3 linked regions of the Homo sapiens genome follow. The protein of the gene in region 1 purifies or fractionates together with the protein of each later gene. This does not show direct contact. Each region holds a gene or a part of one and is shown on either strand. Other genes may lie near its edges.

What was found.
Region 2: the proteins of VDAC1 (region 1) and ATP5F1C fractionate together in Homo sapiens (co-fractionation; 3 studies listed by BioGRID, with this or other methods). This does not show direct contact.
Region 3: the proteins of VDAC1 (region 1) and BCAP31 purify together in Homo sapiens (affinity purification with western blotting; 3 studies listed by BioGRID, with this or other methods). This does not show direct contact.

The regions. Positions count from the first base shown.
Region 1 is NC_000005.10:133,973,360-133,981,391, forward strand, and holds part of VDAC1 (non-selective voltage-gated ion channel VDAC1), read right to left. Parts: intron 7,836-8,032; exon of another isoform or gene 7,789-7,835; coding exon of another isoform or gene 7,747-7,788; intron 7,640-7,746; exon of another isoform or gene 7,598-7,639; coding exon 7,370-7,597; intron 2,663-7,369; coding exon 2,512-2,662; intron 490-2,511; coding exon 432-489; intron 1-431. UniProt on the Homo sapiens protein: Non-selective voltage-gated ion channel that mediates the transport of anions and cations through the mitochondrion outer membrane and plasma membrane.
Region 2 is NC_000010.11:7,783,333-7,791,176, reverse strand, and holds the start of ATP5F1C (ATP synthase F(1) complex subunit gamma, mitochondrial isoform L (liver) precursor), read right to left. Parts: upstream 3,001-7,844; 5' UTR 2,970-3,000; coding exon 2,914-2,969; intron 1-2,913. Other genes in the region: KIN (DNA/RNA-binding protein KIN17), read left to right, coding at 3,244-3,357.
Region 3 is NC_000023.11:153,700,388-153,707,387, reverse strand, and holds the end of BCAP31 (B-cell receptor-associated protein 31), read left to right. Parts: intron 1-3,293; coding exon 3,294-3,429; intron 3,430-4,329; coding exon 4,330-4,453; intron 4,454-5,280; coding exon 5,281-5,381; intron 5,382-6,412; coding exon 6,413-6,451; 3' UTR 6,452-6,896; downstream 6,897-7,000. UniProt on the Homo sapiens protein: Functions as a chaperone protein. Is one of the most abundant endoplasmic reticulum (ER) proteins.

The DNA.
Region 1 (8,032 bases):
AAAGTGGTTATACACTAGAACTATAATACGCCGTGGACTGGCCTAGCCAACTGTGCAGAGGAAACCTGCAAACCACTTTTCCTATTTCTTTGTCTTTTTACAGTGGGGCTGATTTATAAGTTAGTTTTGAGAATCTGCCAGAAATAAGTATCAAGCATTATGTCCACACTGGAAAAAAGGATGGAAGAAAATAGCAAAGAATATGTGTTAGCCTCAGCCTTTTTCCTCCTGCTTGCTACATCTCATATTCTCCAAATGTTTTATAATGACCCCATACTCCTTTATAAACATTTAATTATACTTTACATATATCCATTTATATATACCCACTGTATTATATAAACATTTTATAAGCAATGACATAAATCAGCAAACCAGCACCACAATTTTTTTAAGATAAAGAACCGATTTCACACACAAGCAACACATACCTGGCTTTAGAGTCTGAGTGTATCCTAAACCTATCAGGCTGGAGTTGTTCACTTTAGCCTAATCAAGGAAATGACAAAACAGAGAAAACATTAAGTATAATACTTTGCACTTCCATCTCCAAAATTAGAGCTTTTTAGTCAACCAACCTTGGACTTTAGAATCAAAATTTTTCATGACCACCTTGTTCATGAGATTCATTAAATTCAATACAAAATACATCAATTTTAGGTGCATACCTTTCTGTTCAAAGGGTGTGCTGAGATCTGACACCCCTCATAAGAACAAAGCAGAGAGAAGGAAGGCCTCTTAGGGGCCAGTGTCCTTTTGCTCATATAAATAATGAGGCTCCTTTTCTCTTGTTTTTAAGTGCTTGCTGTTAAGGGAGCCAAATTCGGTTCTAGTTTAGGAGACTTAAAAAGGGCTGTCCATAAATTACACAAACCAGTACAGACACCATTCTGCAACATGAGATTCCCTCATTTCACCCCAAAGAGATACAGCCGCCAGTGCCCTGTGACAACAGAAATGAGCCCAATAGGATTTACTGCAAAAACTGTGTAGTAGTTCGAGGGCCTGTGAGCAATGCCAGAGACTCTGCAAGATGCCAACTGACTATTGATTTCTTAATATGCAATGCAGGAGCTGAAAAGGAGAATGAAAAGTGAGGCGGGGCGGGGGGAATTATCAATTAGAACCCTAGATTTCAGAGTGCCCCTTTTAACAGTCCGCATGATAGAACAGGAACTGGTATTAATGGAAGAGGCTTAACAGTAAGCCAGTCTGGTTCAAATCCAGCTCCCAGCACTTTCCTGCTGTGTACCTTTGAGCAAGTTACTCACCTAAGTTTCTAGTTCCTCATTTGTAAAAACAGAGATGATTGGCCAGGGGCCATGGCTCATGCCTGTAATTCCAGCATTTTGGGAGGCCGAGGCAGGCAGATCACCTGAGGTCAGGAGTTCGAGACCAGCCTGACCAACATGGTGAAACCCCGTCTATACTAAAAACACAAAAATTATCCAGGTGTGGTGGTGGGTGCCTGTGTTCCCAGCTACATGGGAGGGTGAGGCAGTAGAATCACTTGAACCTGGGGGACGGAGGTTGCGCAGTGAGCTGAGATCGTGCCATTGCACTCCAGCCTGGGCAACAAAGGGAGACTCCGTCTCAAAAAAAAAAACAAACAAACAGAGATGATTGGCCAGGCATGGTGGCTCATGCCTTGTAATCCCAACATTTGGGAGGTTGAGGTGGGAGGACAGCTTGAGCCCAGGAGTTTGAGACCAGCCCAGGCAACAGAGTGAGACATTGTCTCTACTAAAAATTTTTTTTTAATTAGCCAGGCATGCTGGTGTGCCTATAGTCCCAGCTACTTGGGAGGCTGAGGTGGCAGGATTACTTGAGCACAGGAGGATGAGGCTGCAGTGAGCTGCAATTACACCACTGCATCCAACCTGGGCCTTGTCTCAAAAAAACAAAAAATAAAAAAAACCCAGAGATGATTAAAAAACCAAAGCACCTATTTCAAATGGGATTAAACACAGTAATCTACACAAAAGGCTCTGCACAGTGCCTGGTACCCATAAGAAGTACTAGTAGTATGATCACTGTACTCATTTGGCACTCTTTTCAAAGTGAGAACATCTCTCACTTTGTTTTTGTTTTTTTGAGACGGAGTCTTTTTTTTTTTTTTGAGATAGAATCTCACTCTGTCACCCAGGCTGGAGTGCAGTGACACGATCTCAGCTCACTGCAACCTCCGCCTCCCCGGTTCAAGCAATTCTCCTGCCTCAGCCTCTCGAGTAGCTGGGATTACAGGCACACGCCACCATGCCCGGCTAATTTTTGTACTTTTAGTAGACAGGGTTTCACCGTGTTGGCGAGGCTGGTGTCAGACTCCTGACCTCAAGTGATCTGCCTGCCTTGGCCTCCCAAAGTGCAGGGATTACAGGCGTGAGTCACGGCGCCCAGCAGCATCTCTCACTTTGAGTAAGCTGAAGCACAGCACTCCAGCAAACCTGAAGGATTCCAACATAAAGAGCAGATGGGCCTGCCTGTGAGATGCGTGATTCCACAGATACCCACCGAGAAGCAGGCGTCAGGGTCAATCTGATACTTGGCTGCTATTCCGAAGCGCGTGTTACTGTTTCCTGCTGTCCAGGCAAGATTGACAGCGGTCTCCAACTTCTTGTTCACTTTCTGGTAAATGGAGCCGCCAAACTCTGTCCCGTCATTCCTGCAAACAAGCACAGGACAGATGCTGAGCTTCCCAGGGAGGTGAGCTGCAGCCCAGACAGATCCACCCAAGTCTCCCAGAAGACAGGGATGACAGAAATGGACTGAACCAATACTGGTATTAAGGGAAGTCAGAAGTTCACCAAATTTCACAAAACAGGTACTAAATTACAGGAAGTCTGATAAGTATGGAACAGGCACCTAGCCAGGCACAGTGGCTCACACCTGTAATCCCAGCACTTTGGGAGGCCGAGATGGGCAGATCACTTGAGGTCAGGGGTTTGAGACCAGCCTGGCCAACATGGTGAAACCCTGTTTCTACTAAAAATACAAAAATTGACCGGGCTGGTGCCATACGCCTGTAATCCCAGCTACTCAAGAGGCTGAGGCAGGAGAATCGCTTGAACCTGGGAGGCAGAGGTTGCAGTAAGCCGAGATCGCGCCACTGCACTCCAGCCTGGGCAACAGAGCAAGACATTGTCTCAAACAAAAAAAGAAAAAGCCAGGGGAGAGGGGGTACGTGGTGACTCACGCCTGTAATCCTAGCATTTTGGGAGGCCGAGGCAGCAGGACTGCTTGAGCCCAGGATATAGCTTGGGCAACAGAGCGAGATCCTGTCTCTATAAGGAAAAAAAAAAAAAAGAAGCAGCAAGTAGAGCACTGAGATTCTGAGTGATTTATTTTTACTGCTACTGATGTTATTACTTTTATAAACGATTCTACCAGAAAAATGGCATGGAAGTCCGGGTGCAGTGGTTCATGCCTATAATCCCAGCACTTTGGGAGGCCAAGGCGGGCAGATCATTTGAGGTCAGGAGTTTGAGACCAGCCTGGCTAACATGATGAAACCCTGTCTCTACTAAAAACATAAAAATTAGCTGGGCATGGTGGCAGGTGCCTGTAATCCCAGCAACCTGGGGGGGTGAGGCAGGAGAATCGTCTGAACCCAGGAGGCAGAGGTTGCAGTGAGCTGAGATCTCACCACTGCACTCCAGTCTGGGTGACAGAGTGAGACTCTGGCTCAAAAAATAAAAGTAAAAATAAAAAATGTTATGGAAAGAGAAGAAAATGAGAAGAGAACACAGCCAGAAATGGCAAGAAAGGTGGGGCTGCACATATGCCTCAGAAGGCAAGTTAGAGCCCTTGGCACAACCTGCTGCAGCCACTGCTGGGGAGATACAGTTGGCACTGACCCAGCCTCTTGGAGGAGCAGCACTTCAAAAGAGCTTAATCCACAATTCATCTCGTCCACCTGTGCATACTCCTCACCCATGCTGCAACATCTAAGCCTGGCAGGATTTGAAAGGGAGCTTTTTGCTACATCATAAAATGTCTCCCTCTTTCAAAAACATTCAGAATGAAACCCCAGCTGGCCAAGCTCCCTCCTCTCTTACAAACACACTGAATGACTCCAGTTGCTGGGAATATCCCTTTCCCTTCTTCAGTCATTCAAATTCTCCTCTTCCTCTTTTGGGGCCCTGCTTAAGCTCTCAGAATTTGAAAGTCTGCCCCACCCAGCTGAACAGCCTATACAAACTCTGCAGTCACTGCCACCCCTAAAAAGGCATACGAAGAGCTCAGAGTCTACACTTTGTCCTCTGTCGGGCTGGGGTCGGCACAGATCATAGACTGTCTCTCATTACTGCTTTCAGATTGTTGTTTATACACACAGTGCATACTGGTGCCTGGTCAGAAGCAACCTTCTCCATGGAGGGAACCACAGAAAACAAAAACAGTTAAAGTGGCTGCCACTGCGGAGCTGGGATGAGCAGGCTGAGGCAGGCTGGAATCACTGCTTTTCATAGGCCCATCTGTACTGTTTGATTTTACAACCATGGGTTCAGACTCCTTTGATTAAAAAAATTAAGAAAAATTTTAATGCTGCAATTTTTTAAAAAGGAATGACCATCCTCCTTGCATCAGATGGTCTTCAAGCCTGCCTAGACCCTCTCAAACATCTTTAACATAAAATCAGTGTCTGAGTTCTGCCTCATCATTGTGGGCATTTCCAGTGGAAATGGCATTGGTTAACTGTGAGTCAGAGCCCACGTACTTTGGAATCCAGCAAAGGGCTTCAGGACCTAAGAACAAAAACTCTAGTCTTCACAAGACACTCTCCCTAAATCAGAGAATACATTCTAAATTTTCTTTTTTTTTTTTCCCCAAGATGGGATCTTGCTCTGTTTCCCAGGCTGGAGAGCAGTGGCAAAATCATAGCTCACTGTAACCTCAAACTCCTGGGCTCAAGTGATCACAGGCATGTTGCCACCATGCCCAGCTAATTTTTAAAAAATTTCTTAGAGACAGAGTATTTCTATGTTCCCCAGGCTGGTCCCAAACTCCTGGCCTCAAGTGATCCTCCCGCCTCAGCCTCCCAAGTAGCTAGGATTACACGTATGAGCCACACATTGTAAATTTTCGTTTCCCCATGAAATTCAGCGAGACAGACATTATGCTTCTAGAAAGTACAGGGAGACCCAGGCACTGCCTGATTCACAGAGAATCCTGTCTTCTGTAGACAGCCCAAGTATGCTACAATAAAACAGCAGCCTGTCAAAAATAAGATTTTTGAATGACTTTAGTAATATATTCAAATGGGGAAGTTTCTTGGGCTTACATGTTTTTAAAAAAGGCCAGACTTTTCAGAATATCCTAAAACCAGGAACACAATACTGCCTTCCTGTACAGAGCTTTCAAAACCATAAACAGAAGGCAGATGCAGTGGCTCACACCTGTAATCCCAGCACTTTGGGAGGCCAAGGCGGGCAGATCGCTTGAGCTCACAAGTTCAAGAACAACCTGGGCAACATGGCGAAATCCTGCCTCCACAAAAAATACAAAAATTAGCCAGGTGTGGTGGCATGCACCTGTAGTCCCAGCTACTTGCAAGGCTGAGGTGGGAGTATCACTTAATCCCGGGAGGTGGAGGCTGCAGAGATCGTGCCACTGAACTCCAGCCTGGGTGAGAGAGTGAGACCCTGTCACCAAAAAATAATAATAATAAATAAATAAATACACAGGTGGAACTGTTCAAATTCATCTATATGAAGCACAAAGAATTTCTGTTATGCATTTGGGCCCCTGCAAGCACCAGGGCAACCCAGATGAGTTGTGTCAGCTGCCTTCACGCTGGTTCCAAAAATAAACCATACCCACTTGTTGCTTATTTAAAATGCTGAAGCTCAGATATGTGGGGGAAATGGCTAACAGCCATTGTTCCTCCTAGAATTGGTACTGAAGAATTGGTGCCAATGCCCAATTTCAAACCAAGGAAAACACTTCCCATGCCAATCAGAATTCTACGTTCAAAAACATTTCTATGCATGTGGTATGTTTCCTATAGCTTTTTAGTATGTTTCACCTCTTCTTAATTAAACATATAATAAAATTGATATTTTCTTTGCTTTTTTTTTTTTTTTTTTTTTTTGAGACGGAGTCTTGCTCTGTTGCTCAGGCTAGAGCGCAGTGGCGTGATCTCGGCTCATTGCAAACTCCACCTCCCAGGTTCAAGCGATTCTCCTGCTTCAGCCTCCCAAGTAGCTGGGATTACAGGCACCCGCCACCACGCCCAGCTAATTTTTGTATTTTTAGTAGAGATGGGGTTTCACCTTCTTGACCAGGCTGGTCTTGAACTTCTGACCTCGTGATCCACCCGCCTCGGCCTCCCAAAGTGCTGGGATTACAGGCGTGAGCCACGACGCCCGGCCAAAATGGATATTTTCTTGGTATACATTTTTACGAATTTTAACACACGTACACAGATTAATGTAACCATGACGACAGTCAGAATATAGAACAGTTCCCTCCCCGAAACTCCCTCAGTCACTGCTTTGTAGTCATACCCTCCCCGCCCCCTGCCAACCACTAGATTGTCCATCTCTATAGTTTTCCTGTGACTTTTTAGCTGTAACAGATTCCAAATTAATGATAAAAATTCCTCAAAAAATTTATTAATGGAAATATTAGTTTACACATTAATATCACTGATTTGCCTTAAGTTTAAGAAGTTACTTCTTTAGTGACCTCTAGTGGAAAGAAATAAACATGGTAACTCTGCACCCAGCTTGTGCCTGTCACAGGTTAATTCCTCATGAAACTAAATAAAACAAGGTTTATGGATAAAACAAGATTCATGAATGAAATGTGTTTCCCTTAACTTAAATCATCAATCTACTTCAATTCTCAAGGGGCTCTCTCCTAACCTATAATCACTGTTTCCCTTCACCATACTGTCCAATAGTTACTTTTACATGCTTCACTGTACAGAGAAGATAGTTTGTAACTGAGATAATCAGCTCCTAAATTTGTCTACCATGTCTACATGTCATCAAGCCCAGCAGGCTAATCCTCAGGCATTAGACAGAGAAAGAGAGCTGTTTTGTTAACTAAAACAAAAACTGCAGGGAATGGACACGCTCTGGACTGACACCATGTCCCTGCTGTAATTAATCAGCCACTTTGTGTACCTGTGGCAATATATACTGTTCACAGAGTGGAAAGGATCTAAGACACTCCAGGAAATGGGTAGGTGGGAAACAAAAGATAGCAGCAGGCCATGTGGCTCATCTAATGCCAACAAACTCACTTTACAGTGGTTAAAAACTGGGCTTTCTTAAAAAAAAAAAAAAAAAAACAGTGAAAAGCAATCCCCTTACCACACATGCTCCAACCCCACCCCTCCCACCCTGCTGCCCCCATGTACACTTACACATTAGTGTGAAGCTGGAATTCATCAGTCTTGTAGCCAACTGCAAAGTTGCTCTGGGTCACTCGGGATTTTGCAGTCTCAAAATTCATCTGGTAGCCGGCCAGCCAGCCCTCGTAACCTAGCACCAGAGCACCCCGGATGGAAGGCCCAGCAATGTCGAAATCCATGTCGCAGCCCAGGTTAATGTGCTCCCGCTTGTACCCTGTCTTGATTTTAGCATTTTTTTTCCTGAAGGAAAATAAGTTATATTAAGATCAGAAGCTAACTCACCTTGAAATGCAAGTTGTCTTTTTTTTTTTTTTAATCCCAGGTCAAATAAAGGGAGTGGGGTGGGGGTGAAGTCAGGGCTCCAGTTCTCCCTTAAGCCACTGCTGTACCACAATGAGCAGGACACAACCTCTCTTCCACAGGGACTCAGTCTGCAGAAACCCCACAATAACGAAGTGAGAACACAGACAGGAAAAGCCTGAAAAATAAATACGAAGTAACTTTCTTCTCCTATCCTCTTTGTATGCTTAACGTAGCAGCCTACACAGGCATTCATTAGGTAGAAAGCCACCATGTAATTATGAAACAGATGCATCTTTGATATTTTCCAAACCTGTGGAAAAGATTTATCTGCCATGAAGGCAGCTACCTAAATAGCAGCTTTTAAAGAGACGG
Region 2 (7,844 bases), on another chromosome or scaffold:
AGGTGCGTACCACCACGTCTGGGTAATTTTTGTATTTTTAGTACAGACAGGGTTTCACCATGTTGGCCAGTATGGTCTTGATCTCCTGACCTTGTGATCCGCCCGCCTCGGCCTCTCAAAATGCTGGGATTACAGACGTGAGCCACTGCGCCTAGCCCGACTGCATCTTCTTTTCCTCTTTTCGCAAGTCCAAGCAATCTTCTTACATTACATTTGATGTAGAAACTGTACTTAAAAACTCTTCATTTCTCTACTGATATACAGCATTTGGATCCCTATCAGCATTTCCCCCATTGTCCTACATGCTTTGCAAATACTCTAATCCTCACACTAACCCACTGAATTGTGCACTTTTATTGCATATATTTGACAGATGAGGAACTGGTGGGACAGACACTGAGTAACCTGCCCAAGGTCACAGAGCTGCTAAGTGGCAATCAGAATTCAATCCCTGCCGTCTGAATGCAGCCCTTCAGGGCTGGCTACAGAGTCTCTCTCTTCATACAGTACTACACTCTGCTGCCTCACATTTTTTACATTTATTAGTAAATATCTGCCCTCATGGTCTCAGATGACAATTTGTCTTTTCTCTCCTGAAATGCCATCTCCTTATCGGTATCTGTAGTTTATGACTACTGACACGTTATTAAAAAACAGTTCCATTTTAGAGACTACTGAACTCTAAGAAATAGAAATGTTTTTCCCAAATTTGAAGACAGTAAAATCCGGGATTCTTTCTCTCAAATTTTTAATTTCCATTTTCTTATATGCTGCTTTAAAAAAAAGGTTTAATTTTCAAAACGTTAGAGTATTTTGCCGATACCCTAACAACTATTAAAATAACCACTGTGAATTTAAGTAAGCCTAATGTTTTTATGTTAGCATGGTAGCCTCTCTGAAAACAAAAACTAAAATAACAAATTGTACTTTAAAAAACTTCCAGTAATCAAGACAGAAGCATGGAAATATGCCTCTTCATGGTTCGTTAAGACAAAGGTCTTTTCTTCCCCTTCCAAATTAATTCTGTGGAGTGGTTTTAATTTCTGAATTCAAAAGGCAATTATAATTCATGGAAAGAGAAATGGCAGAAGAGGAAGGAAAGACATTAAGCACCAGCAGTGAAGGAATACATGAAAAGAAGAAGACAGAATATGCTTTCATAGTGGAACACTGTTGATTGATGATTTATAAAACCAATATTCCAAAGGGATTAAGGTCAGGATTAGGACCTTTATATGCTGATTGTGGTTCCGATTTAAGCTCCTAACAGTAGTTGTCTTGAACTGAGAGCTCTTATTTAAAACAATCCTTCACTAAAAGAGCTTCAAATTATCTTACAGGTGCTTTAAAAAAAGATATTTCTAAAATTTTTTGTAAAATATTGTCTTTGTTTCAGAAACTATTTCCACTTTTTTAAAGATCAACTTAGAAACTAAGGTTGTAAAAATACTGACAGATAACATTAATGCGTGGCAAGAAGGTAAGGCCAGGAGAGCTGATGTTCGCAGAGCACCACTGCATGCCAGGCACTGTCCCAGGAAACTGACTGAGACCTTATCTATTTGCTCACCATCACATTTGGGCACTTTCCAAGTACCACCGGGTGGAGTGGAAGCACTCAGCTAATGTCTGCTGAGTGGTTAACAAGTGGGACAATCTATACAACTGAGAATTCAACTACAGTGACCTTTTAATTCCCATGAATGTTCTTTTTCCATATTAGAGAAAAAAAAATCTGACTTCCAAGGCCAAGCCACCAAAAATTTTATGTGGCTAATTCACATCAGATATCATTCTGAAAATCTCGTATATTACTATCAGTTATTTGCTTAATGAAAAACCTATTTATTTCAACTAATGCTTTATGGTCCCTTCATATAAATTAGGATACGAAAATCTAGTTTAGCACTGTAGCGCCTTAGAAATCCTCCACACTGTTAAGAGCAGGGAATTGCTACGACACAGCCTAGAATCCCCTTAGCAGCGTGTCTGGAATTCTTCCAGATTCCGTCAAGCTTCAAAACTGAACAGCACCACCCACAAACCAACTTTTACCTGCCCATTCCCGGGCCTTCTAATATGCACTTCCCCCAGCCCAGGTCCCCCTACCCGGAACTAATGTTTAAAATTCTCGAGGCTCGTGGCACCCTTTAGTTGCATGTCAGTTAACAAATGCCACTTAAAAGCCCACCGAACTCCTCCCCCAGGACCTGGGGGCAATTTCATGACCTTGCAGGGTTACGGTTTCAGCAAGTGGTTTCAAGGTAGTGCTAGGTGTCCTTCCCTTCCCCGCCCTCAGACAGATCTGTACGGTCCCTTCTGCACCAAAACCACCCTCAGAGGCATCTAGGATGTTCGCCTTTGCTGTTGCAGCACCCAGCAAAGCGTCTGCAACACGGGAGGTGCTCGACGGCCGCGCTCTCTGACTCGATCGAATCTTAAAGGGTCACTCTGTCCAGCACTACAGGGTTTCAAAGGGCGTCAAGGACAAAAAGCACGACTTAACCTTCCCCTGGGCTATTGCTCAGGCTCCCGTCACCTTGCAGGCCCTGAGACTGGGGGCCTGGCTTGCAGTGGAAGTGGAAGCTCAGGAAGTGCTGATTAGCTGAGGGAACTCAAGACCGCCCAGACGTCAATTTGGACTCAGGCCGCAGTCCCGAGGTCCCAGGTGGCCCTCCGACCTCAGGGAACCGGGCGGGACCTTGCTCCGCCGGAGCCCGGCCCTGCGCACACCTTGCCCGACCTCAGAGCCGCTTCCTGCAGCCCCCGCTACCCGGCGCCTCCGACGGGCCAGGGGCCCAGCTAGGCCCTGCGACCCCACATCTGCCCCCGCGCCCATCTCCTCCTCCCTGCCCCGTGCCCAAGCTCTTCCATCCCTTGCGGTCCTGCCGATCTTCCCGCAAGCTGCCATACCATTGCGGCTGCAAGGTCCAGGCCGACAGCCCAGCGACACCCGCGCGAGAGAACATGGTAGCCACAGCCCTGCTGAAGGTCGGTCAGGCAGGCCTCAGCGCGCATGCGCCGAAGCTCCCCAGCGCGCCCCTCCCACCTTGCTCTCTTCTTCAGTCTCGTTTCTTCGCGCTACGGCGAGGGGAGTCTCGCGACCGTTGCAACCCAGTCTTCCCAGGCCCCACCTCCTTCCGCCTCTCAGCTGGGATTTGTCCCGCCCACCGCCGCCAGCCCGGTTCCGTTTCCGGCTGGCTGAGTACTGGGGTCCAGAAAGTGATCGCTGCCGTGGTCGCCATGGGGAAGTCGGATTTTCTTACTCCCAAGGCTATCGCCAACAGGATCAAGTCCAAGGGGCTGCAGAAGCTACGCTGGTATTGCCAGATGTGCCAGAAGCAGTGCCGGGACGAGGTGAGTGGGCCCGGAGTGGCCCCGTCTTCCCAGGAGGGCCCCTGGCAATCCAGGATCAGGTCCTGGACGCGGGGCTGAGGGCGCGGGGCTGGGGCTCCCGGGGTCCGGGTCGTGAGGCTTCTGAGGTCTGCAGTGGGCGAGTCAACTACTCAGCGCACGAGAGCCGTCCCTCCCCGCAGCCCCCGGGCCCAGCGGGCAGCCTGTGTTCTGCGACCCCTCATTCCTCCCCAGTCCGATCCCCACCACCAAAGAAATGAAATCAGAAAAGGTTTTGCACCCCTCACAGGGGCGGGGATACTGCAATACTAGACGCCCGGGCAATGCCAGTAACAGTCATCAGCTCTTACTTGACTTGACTCTTAAGAGAAACAGGGTGGTTAGGATTCACTCCTCTTTTGGGATCAGGTGAAAAAGGAGAGCTAAGCTCTTCCACACTACTCATCTAGCAAGCATTTATTGAGCACCTACACTGTACCGGGCACAGAATAATATTGTGGTTAAAATTATGGATTTATCTGGTTTATGGATATATCAGACTGTCAAAATTTAAAGTCAAGCAGGGCCACTTACCAACCGTGTGGTCTTGGGCAAGTTATTTACTTATATTCCCCTTTACTTATCTGTAAAGAGGGAATAATAATTTCACCTACTTGTAGGATTGTCGCTGAGTTTTAAATGAGTGAAGTATATATAGAGTGGCTCAAGGAGTCTGGGCAGATCTCGAAAAGCCTTATATGGCTACACTATGGAATTTACACTTTTCCCCATTAAAGAGGTGGTTGATTGAATGCTGTGCAGGCTAGTGATGTGATCATATTTTTCTCCGGAGATTGGACTGGATTGGGTAAGGGTGGAAGAACACTGAGGCAATTGGAATAATCTAATCCAGTGTTTCTGCAAGTGAAGGAAGAGGTATTTTAGGTAGGACTCATACTAATATTGATACAGTTACTCTCTTTAGTTCTATTAAGGAATACCTGTATATGCATTATCTAATGTCTTAGTCTGCTTGGACTGCCATATAAAGTGCAGTAGACTGGGTGGTTTAAATGACAGAAATTTATTTCTCACAGTTCTGGAGGCTGGGAAGTTCAAGATCAAGGTGCTGGCATGGTCAGATTCTAGTGAGGGTCCTCTTCTTGGTTTGCGAAACTGCCTCTATCCTCACAAAGCAGATAGAGCAAGCTCTAATAGAAACTTCTCTTCCTCTTTTTTTTTTTGAGATACGGTCCCACCCTGTTCATCATGCAGGCTCTACCCTTGTGACCTCATCTAAATCCAGTCATCTCCAAAGGCCCACCTTTTAATTCCATTCCCTTGGGGGTTAGGGTTCAATATATGAACTTTGAGGGGACGCAGACATGCAGTCTGTAACACCCAGACTTAACACTTTAAGTAATTTTGCCGTATTTACTTTTTAAAAAATATTTTAAGGTAAATACCAATATCAGGATATTTCACCTTTAAATACTTAAATAGGCATCTCTAAAATTTCAGGATACTTTTCTATATAACCATAGTATATGTCATCAACATAACACAATTAATAGAAGTTCCTCTTTATCATCTAATACACATTCACACTTCCTCAGTTGTCCTCCAACTGCTCCTTGAAATCAAGATTCGATCAAAAGCAATAGACTGTTATAGGTTTGGTTATTAGGACCTCCGCTCCCCTCTCCAGTCTCCCTCATCATCAACATCCTGCAACGAGGTGTTATATTTGTTACCATGGATGAAACTACATTGACACATCAGTATCATCCAGAATCCATAGTTTACATTAGGGTTCACTCTTGGTGTTGTACATCCTATGGGTTTTGACAAATGCATAATGATACGTATTCACCATTATAAAATCTCACAAAATAGTTTAACTGCCCAAAAAGTCCTCTGTGCTCTGAGTTATTAGGACTTTTAGTTTTCTCCAAATTTAATTTTCTCTATATTCTGAATTTAGAATATAACCCATTTTCCCTCCACCCCTTTTTCTTTTTTTTTTTTTTCTAGACAGAGTCTCACCTGTCTCACAGGCTGGAGTGCAGTGATGCGATCTCAGCTCACTGCAACCTTTGCCTCCCGGGTTCAAGTGATTCTCATGCCTCAGCCTCCCAAGTAGCTGTCCCAGCTACTTTACAGGCTGGGATTACAGGTGCCTGGCACCACACCTGGCTAATGTTTGTATTTTTGGTAGAGGCGAAGTTTTGCCACGTTGGCCAGGCTGGTCTCAAACTCCCGACCTCAGGTAATTCACCTGCCTCGGCCTCCCAAGGTGCTGGGATTACAGGTGTGAACCACTGCGCCCAGCCGTCTTTTTCTTGACATTGACTTGTTGAAGAGAGGAGGCCAGGCTGTTGTCCTGTAGCATCCCATATATGTTGACTTGTTTCCTCTGGTTGTCTTTTGCCTTCTAACTCGTAGTTTCTGTCAACTGGAAATTATATCTAAAAGCTTTGATTGGGTTAGATTAAACATTTTGGGGAGAAAGAATACTTTGTAGGTGATCTTGATAGATTAATTTCAGGTTAAACATTTGCAGGGAGGAATATGATTTTTTTTTTTTTTTTTGAGACAAGGTCTCAATTGGTAGCCCAGGCTCGTGTACAGTGGCGCGATCATGGCTCACTGCAACCTTGACCTTCCCAGCTCAAGCAATCCTCCTCCTGCCTCAGCCTCCCAAGTAGCTGGGACCACAGGTGATTGCCACCATGCCTAATTAACTTTTTTATTTGTATAGAGATAGGGTCTCCCCATGTTGCCCAGGCTGGTCTCAAACTCCTGAACTCAAGCACTCCTCCTGCCTCGGCCTCCCAAAGTGCTAGGATTACAGGCTCAAGCCACCATGCCCAGCCTATAGTATTCTTTATAGGTGATCTTGTATATCTCATATAGCATCATATAAGGAAGCCAATAATGTTTGGTAGTACTTAAATTGAGTAAAGGTGACAGCTTGTAAATAATATTAGAAAGTATTATTTTCCCCCTTGTAAGAGCAAGTGAGTATTGGGGTAATACTTAGAAATCATACCTATATATCTAGTTTCCCATTAACCTTTTACCTGTGTGTTTTAGCATCCTTGCCTGAGTCAGTTATTTTATTAGGAGTTGCAAAGAGGTTATTTTTCTAATTTTTTTTTAACATTTATGATTGGCTGCCATGCTTTTGTACAAATGAGCTTTTGCTCATCAACTAGGGCTATTTGGTTATCCTTAAACTTATTTTTTTTTGTTTTTGAGACAGGGTCTTACTCTTGCCCAGACTGGAGTACAGTGGCTCGATCATAGCTCACAGCATCCTCCAACTCCTGGGCTTAAGCAATCCTCCCGCCTCAGCCTCTCAAGTAGCTGGGACTATAGGCACATACCACCCATGCCTGGCTAATTTTCAAAAAATATCTTGTGGAGATGGAGGTCTCATTGTGTTGCTCAGGTTGGTCTTGAACTCGGAGGCTCACACAATCCTCCTGCCTTGGCCTCCCAAAGTGCTGGGATTACAGGCATGAGCCACTGTGTCTGGCCATCCTTAAATGTTAAACTGAGATGCAATTTTTTTGGGAAAGGAGTAAAGGATTAATTCTTTTCTGTAATCTCCTGATACTGGAAGGCTGAAGAGAATGAAGGTCAGAGCCAGGGTATCCCCCCAATCTACTCCTGGGTTTCTAGGATTTAGTAACTGTATTGTTTGTTCATTTTATTTTATTTTTTAATATATGGAAAGTGATACTGTTTATTTATGAGGCTGATACCAAGTTTCTTTTAAAAATAAATTTAAATAATAACTATGATTCTTATAGGGCACAGATGAGGCAAAAATTGTGTAAGAGGTCCATGATCTAAAGATTAGGAAACTATTTGAAGCAAAATCGAGTGTGGAAATCTGGACGGTGTCAGTGAGATTGATCAGAGGGACTGAATATGGGTTATTAAGAAGCTGAATAGACTTCCTATTAAATTGGAGGTAGAAAGAGAAGAAGGAATCTAGGATGTTGTCTGGTTTCATGGCTTGGGTGCTTGTGCTTCAGATAGAGATAGGGAATACAAGAAAGGCACATTTTTTGTTTCTATTACTAGTGAAGAATGAGGGTCAAATATTAAGGAGAGGTATACTAAGTCAAAACTTGTATGTTTTTTTCCTGTCATTTTAAGAAGGTACAGATTTAATATGTTTAACAAGGTTAATATAATATGCAGCAATGTATTTTGGATAATGAGCTGAAGTAGAGGAAAGTGAGCGAAAGTAGTTTCTGTGGTGAAAATTCACTAATGACCCATTTTACTCCTTTGAGCACTTGTCTGACACTTTGTATAAAGTATGTGCTCAATGAGAATTGATTAACTTAAGTCTAAAAAATGGAATCTCTCTTCTGTTTCTGTGCCTGGTATGTTTCTTATTAATGTCTGTTTTCTACAACACTCTTTTGCTGTCTCTTTGATCTCAAGGATTATTCTTTGATTAGCAGAGTTGAAAGCTCAACTCTATAAAAATT
Region 3 (7,000 bases), on another chromosome or scaffold:
CCCCTTTTTTTTTTTAGCTATACTTGCTGGAGTGGGCGGAAGACCCCTTTTCAGTGTGCCAGGTATGGGAGTGCAGAGATGAAGGCACAGTGCCCAGCCTAAAGACCTTCATAGCCTGGTAGGGCAGCCATATAAACGGATGGCAGCCACGCAGAGAACAGAGAATGAGGTAGTTACATGCGGGTGCCTGGGGGGCTGCTGCAGGAGCCCCCAGAAGGCGTCCCTCTGATGGGGTGGGAGATCCAAAAGGGTTTCTGGGGGGAGGTGAGGATTGAGCTGGGTCGAGAGGACATTCCGGCCTGGAGAACTGCCACACAGAGCCAGGCGTGTTCCAGGAATGGTGAGGGGTTAGGTGTTACTAGAGCAGGGGGCCACGTGGTTAGTGAAGGAGGAGAGCTCACTGAGGGCATGCGTGCTGGCAGCAGGTGGCTTAAGCAGAGGGCTGACATGGTCGGATTTGCCTTGCTCTGGGAGGTGGATGGGAAAGCCGTATGGCAGCAGATAGGGAGGAGGCGCCAGCAGTGGGGATGATGGTGGGCATGTTTGCAGTTGACATGGAAAGTGCTGGGTTGTGGCTTGGGCTGGGGGCCAAGAGGGCTGAGTCCAAGGCGGTTTGCCTGCCCACCACTACAGCAGGGGCTACACGAGGTGGTCAGGTCAGGCAGGACAAGGGAAGGCCCGTTTTGGACAAGCTGAGTCTAGAATGTCTCTGGGGACATCCAGGAGCCAATGTTTAGCAGGAGGTTAGGTATGAGTCTGGGCCACAGAGAAAACCCTTTCGGGGATAAGAGTGGCTGGGAGGAAGGTATAGGGTGTCAGCTGAAGAGTGCAGACCCCAGAGGGAGCAGAATAACAGTGGGAGGAGGGTGTTGCGAGGGGACCTCAGGAGGGTAACTTAGCAGCAGAGCAAGGAGTTCAGGGTGACCTCCGGCCTGGGCGGTTAGGAGGCCACTGGTGGCCCTGCTGCTGGCTTGGAAGGGCAGGCCTTGGCCAGCCTAGGTTGAGGAATATATGGGAGGGAAAAGACCAGGGGCTTGGGCAGGGTGACTCCAGGAAGGAGGCAGTTGAAGGTGAGGTTCCTGGGGGGAGAATGATCCCGGGTCATCCAGCAGGAAGAGAGAGGACCTAGAAGGTGTGAAAAAGAACTATCGGGCTGGGGGTGCAGTGGGAGGAGTATGCCCGGGGTGCTGTGGGGGTGGGGAGCGCCTGTGAGGGTTGGCAAGAGGAAGGGGAACCGGGGCCTGGCAGAGGGGAGCCCCAGACTGTCTCAAGGCTGGGAACTGAAGGCCTGGGCTGGGGCTGAGCAGGGCCAGGCTTTCGGACACACACAGCGTGGATCTTGCGCTGGACTTTGTGTATGCCCTGGCCTATCTTGGAAGCCCTGGTTCTCAATAGCCGGGAAGGGCCTGGGACGGTCCGAAAAGAGCTGGGCCTCTGCTGCACTGCCGCGGAAGCATTTGTGTTAGCTATCTCCCTGGGTACTGGGGTGACAGCCATGGGCACTCACCAGCAGCCGCTTGCCTGGCCTGGTGGCGGGGAGTATAGCCTTCAGTCTTGCTTGGTCCTCTCTCTACCACCAGGTGGCATGACCCCCACCCCTCAATTCCAGCTGGGAGGAGCGGTCCTCTTCCTCTTTCTACATCACTGGGATCCGCTCTGGGGCTGGGCAGCTCCTTGCCGGGGGCCTGGGTCTTAGTCAGACTTGCCTTTCTTTCTAGGCCTCTCCATTGACTTCTGGCCATGCCGATGTGAGTCAGATGCATTGTTTCTCTCTGGCTCCTAGGGCGCTCAGTAGCTTCCTCCACCTTCAGGCTGTAGCCCAGTGCGGGGCAGGCTGGTGGGCAGCTGGGGGCTGAGGCAGGGAAACCTGAGCCCTAGGCCACGAGGTCCTGGGCCGCTAATTTTAGAAAGCACATGTCACTGGAAACTCTCCTTCTCTGCCAGGAATCAACGGCCTGGCTCTCCTGGTGCTGCCAGGGGCCCCTGGGAGCCTCTCCCCAAACCAGGAACCTCAGGGGTGTCTCCTGGCCCGGGTGGGTACTTTCTGTCCTGAGTACATCTGGAAAGGGGCTCTGCCGAGGCCCTGGAGAGCCATGGCTTGGGCCAGGGAGGTAGCTCACCTTGTCTGCTCTTTACTTTCTCCAGCCCTTCCGGGCTGCCCCTGGCCATGAGCAGAGGCTGTGAAGTGTGAAGGCCTGGCTGGGGCAGGAGGCCACTTCGACTCTTCTGAGTAAGCTGTTGTTGAAGCACTCTGGACTAAGCAGATTTGTCTCTTCCTTCCCCCAGGCCCTGTGTGACCCTTGCCTTCTGAGGTGTGTGAGAAAGGAACCCCTGCCTTGTTTTGACTGTTTGAACGAGTCCTTCCCTCCTCTCTTCCTGCCAGCTAACATCTCGGGGCAAGGGTGAACCAAGGGAAATGAAGTGGCCATTCCAATCTCTGTTTGGGGACTAGCATCTGCCTCCAGCTGCCACCTGTTTGCCTGTCTCTCCTGGCTGCTTCAGAGAGGCAGCCTGCGCCTGTGTCCTGATTCCTCTACACCCTCCAGCCCAAGAAGACCTCATTCGGGGTGCTGTTACATAACGGATGTGTTCCAGCGCAGCCTGCATGATGGGTTGGGAAGGAGGCTGGCCAGAGAAGAGAGTTCTATCTTACGTTGGGACCTGGGAGCTGTTCCCTGTTAGTTTAGAGAGCAGAGTGGTTCCGAGCTCAGGTTCTGGAGTCAGGCAGACATAATTTGGAATTCCAGCCATGTCCATTTCTGGTTTTTGGCCTTGGGTACATTGATTTACGCTGCTGAACTTCAGTTTCCTCTTCTATAAGCTGGGGCAGTGATAGTAACTTCCTCATCAGGTAGATGTGAGGATGCGGCCTGGCATGTTGGAAGTGCTTGGATTGATTAGCTTCTCTCGTTACCTTACCAAGGCAAGCCCAGCCTCGCAGGGAGGAAGGTGGTGCTGTGGCTTGTCTGGCACGTCTAGGCCCCGACCCGGAAAGTGCCGCGTTCTGGGACCTCATGCTGTAGCGAGGCTCTTCCCAGCCCCCCAGGCTCCTGCTTCCAGCCCCTCTGAGAGCTGAGGGTGGCCGTTGGGCACAGCGGCAGAGGACGGCTCCTGGGCCCCACCTTTTCCCTCACGCTGCCAGCACCAGGTTGGCGGCTTCTCACTCGGCTGCCTTGGCAAGAGGGCAGGTCCAGGCTGGAGCTAGGTGTGGAGTGGGAGCAACCAGGAGGTGCTCCTGCCAGCCCTTCATGCTCTTTTTCTCACTTCTCCCTTCTTTTTGTAAATAATTGCAGCCTGCTTAGACGCCTGGTGACTCTCATTTCGCAGCAGGCCACGCTGCTGGCCTCCAATGAAGCCTTTAAAAAGCAGGCGGAGAGTGCTAGTGAGGCGGCCAAGAAGTACATGGAGGAGAATGACCAGCTCAAGAAGGTGAGCCCAGCTTCCCGACCCACCATGGGGCGTCCTGGTGTTACACTGTGGGAGCCACATTCTTCAGGGCCTCAGTGGCCACTGCTAGCCTGTCACGCTGGGAAATGTGCCTGAAAAGCCAGAGTTGGGTGGAGGCGCAGAGGGGAAGTCCTCAGTGGGGAGAGTATGCCTGCTGGAGGCGTCTGTGTGTGAGGGTCCGGGTGAGGAGGAGGGTGTTGCTGCTCTCGTTTCCATCCACTGCTTCCAGTTAGACCCTTCCCTGAGAAAAATGGCCCCTCAGTGAGCCAGGCCCTCTGCTGTGATCCGAAGGCCCTCAGCTAGGCCCTTGTTCCCTGCAAGATTGCCGCACCCCCTCTGGAACTCGGGGTCTGTGGCATCCCTCAGTGCTGGAGAGGAGGTGGGGGCAGGGTAGTTGGCCAGTCTTAGACGTCCCGTCAGGAGGTGAGCTGCAAGGCAAGCTCGGAGGGATGTGGATGCAGAGGTGGGATAGAGCTGGCCAGGCCGACTGGGGGCTCCTAACTGCAGTGAGCGGCACCATGTAGGGAGCACGAGGCACCGCCATCTGTGGAGGGGTTGGTGAGCACCATGGAGCTGCTGAGCCCTGCTGCTTGGGAAGGAGGCAGGGCCAGGGGCCAGGGGCCAGGGGCCAGGGCAGGCAAGGCGTGCCCGGCGAGCTGCAGCAGGTGGCCCCGCTGGCGCTTCTCTTTCCCTCGGCGGGCAGCCACGCCCTGGCCTTTGCCTAGGAGCTGGGAGCAAGTGGTGGCTCGGTTCCGCGTTGACATTTCCGAAGGGGCGTGTGGCCAGGGCAGCTTGAGGAACCGCAGCTCGGTGGGGAGGATGGGGCTGGAACCTCTCCCTCCCTCCCTCCTGAGTAACCCTGGCCTTTGGCACTTTTCCCAGGGAGCTGCTGTTGACGGAGGCAAGTTGGATGTCGGGAATGCTGAGGTGAAGTTGGAGGAAGAGAACAGGAGCCTGAAGGCTGACCTGCAGAAGCTAAAGGACGAGCTGGCCAGCACTAAGCAAAGTGAGGCTCGACCTCGTGTCCTTCCCCGCAGGGAAGTCCAGAGGAGCCTCCTCTGCCCGCTGCTGCCCATTTTGTGCCAAAGTATTAGTAACAAGCCTTGCACGCACGCTCGAGGGCTGGCTGAAAACAGACCAATAGCACCCTGCGCCTCCAACCCCAATGCAGCCATGCTTAGCCGGCAGGCCAGTGAGGCTAAGTGGTTTGAATGGGGCTCAGGAGGAACCAGGCTGCAGTTGGTGGGCCTCGATTGCCCTGCACTAGAGCAGTGCATGCTGGGGCTTTCCCGTCCAGAGTGTGGCACGGTAGCCCCAGCATGCCTGGGGGCTGAGAATGAGGGGAGTGTGGGAGTGGCGTTCAGGAGGGGAGTGGGCGGCTCCCAAGCGGCCTGCCTGTCTTTGGTCTCCCACGCATAGACTTAAGTCTGGGGCGTTTTCCCCCAATACCACAGGCCTCGCCTGCTGCTGCTGTGTGCAAGGCGTGGTTGTCATTGGGTCTCGCTTGCAGGCTGGGATCTTGCTCCCTGTCTCCCACTCTCAGCCTCCCTGGAGGTTACCCTTGCCGAGAGCCACTAGAGTTCCTCTCCATTAAAGGGACTGGGGGATGGCCTCTGTGTTTCTTTTGCTTTATCTTGAGCTTTTTTGTCAGCCCTTTCCCTCTACTTTGGGGGCCTGCAAAAGCAGAGGGGCTTTATTTTGAGAAGTAGCCTCCTGTATAACCTCGTTTGAGATAGATTTGGGCCAGTTTCTGGTGTCTGTAGCAGTCGGGTTTTTTCCCCCTAATTCCTGTCTTTTCGTTTCTGTTTTCTTGGTCATTTACATCATTTCAAGAACTAGAGAAAGCTGAAAACCAGGTTCTGGCCATGCGGAAGCAGTCTGAGGGCCTCACCAAGGAGTACGACCGCTTGCTGGAGGAGCACGCAAAGCTGCAGGTCAGCCCTCCCGTATTGCTGCGCCCAGGGCAGGAGAGCAGAGCAGGATGAGGCAGCCCCTGCGGGTGCGGAGGGAACCTTCCAGGGGCCCAGGGGCTGGCTGCCCTCTCCACCACTCCCCCTGGCCACCTCTGCCCTACTGAGTGGGACCCTTCACCGGGCAGGAGGGGGGTGGCCTGGCAGCAGATGTAGGCACTTGCCAAGGCGGCCCTCAGGAGTGGCACTGGCTCACTAGGCTCTGAGCCTTCCTACCTTCGTGCTCAGGCGCAGCCATGGTTTGGGGCCTGGTCAAGAACAAAGAAGCAGGTGAAACTCTGGGACCCACTGCTGGCCTTCTTTCCTAGGGTGCTGGGGAGTGACGTAGGGCAAAGATCCCTGGGCAAGTGAGGGCACAAGGTGTCAAAAAGGCACCTTCCCTAGCAGGCGCTAGTTGTGGCCATCACCTGCTGCCCTAGGCCTGATCTGAGTCCTCAGACTAGCTTGGGTGCACCAGGCCGCATCTGGAAGCCCAGGCGGTCTTGACGTTGGGAGTGAGGGCCACATAAATACTCCTAACTTTGGACAGCTGGCCTCAGTGCTTGGTGGCCCAAGTTTGGGCACCACAGCAGGTGGGGAGGAAGGGTCCAGCCTCAAAGGGGGCACCCATGCCCTCTGTATGGGGCAGGCTTGGCAGATGGGCTTCGAGGGCACCTGTCAAAGGTGTGCAGAGTTGGGAAGGGTCTGATCAGGTCTTGAAGGGGACTGGATGCCTTGCTGTTCCCTGCAGCCAGGACTCAGCCCCCAGTGAGGTCCTGGCAGTCCTCCCTGGCTGGCGTTAGGTCCAGGGCTTTCCCTAGAGCGTGGGCCAGGGCTGACGCTCCCACCCTGGCAGGCCTTTGGGTGCAGCTGGGGAGGGGGCCCCTTGTTCACTTGAATAGCTGTTGTTAGGAGAGAGGGGAACCGAGGTGGACCTCTGGGGCATGGGGCTGGAGGTGGCAGGGGAGGAGTGGACCCGGCCAACCTACTGCTGTGGGATTTCTGTCCCTTTCCAGGCTGCAGTAGATGGTCCCATGGACAAGAAGGAAGAGTAAGGGCCTCCTTCCTCCCCTGCCTGCAGCTGGCTTCCACCTGGCACGTGCCTGCTGCTTCCTGAGAGCCCGGCCTCTCCCTCCAGTACTTCTGTTTGTGCCCTTCTGCTTCCCCCATTCCCTTCCACAGCTCATAGCTCGTCATCTCGGCCCTTGTCCACACTCTCCAAGCACATTACAGGGGACCTGATTGCTACACGTTCAGAATGCGTTTGCTGTCATCCTGCTTGGCCTGGCCAGGCCTGGCACAGCCTTGGCTTCCACGCCTGAGCGTGGAGAGCACGAGTTAGTTGTAGTCCGGCTTGCGGTGGGGCTGACTTCCTGTTGGTTTGAGCCCCTTTTTGTTTTGCCCTCTGGGTGTTTTCTTTGGTCCCGCAGGAGGGTGGGTGGAGCAGGTGGACTGGAGTTTCTCTTGAGGGCAATAAAAGTTGTCATGGTGTGTACGTGGTGCGGTGTGTGACTGCAGCTGTGGGGAGGGCTCTGCTTTCTCTCCTGCCTGGAGCCCCCAAGCGGCCACAGCCCTTCAACCTGTTTCCCCCACTGAAGGCCAGG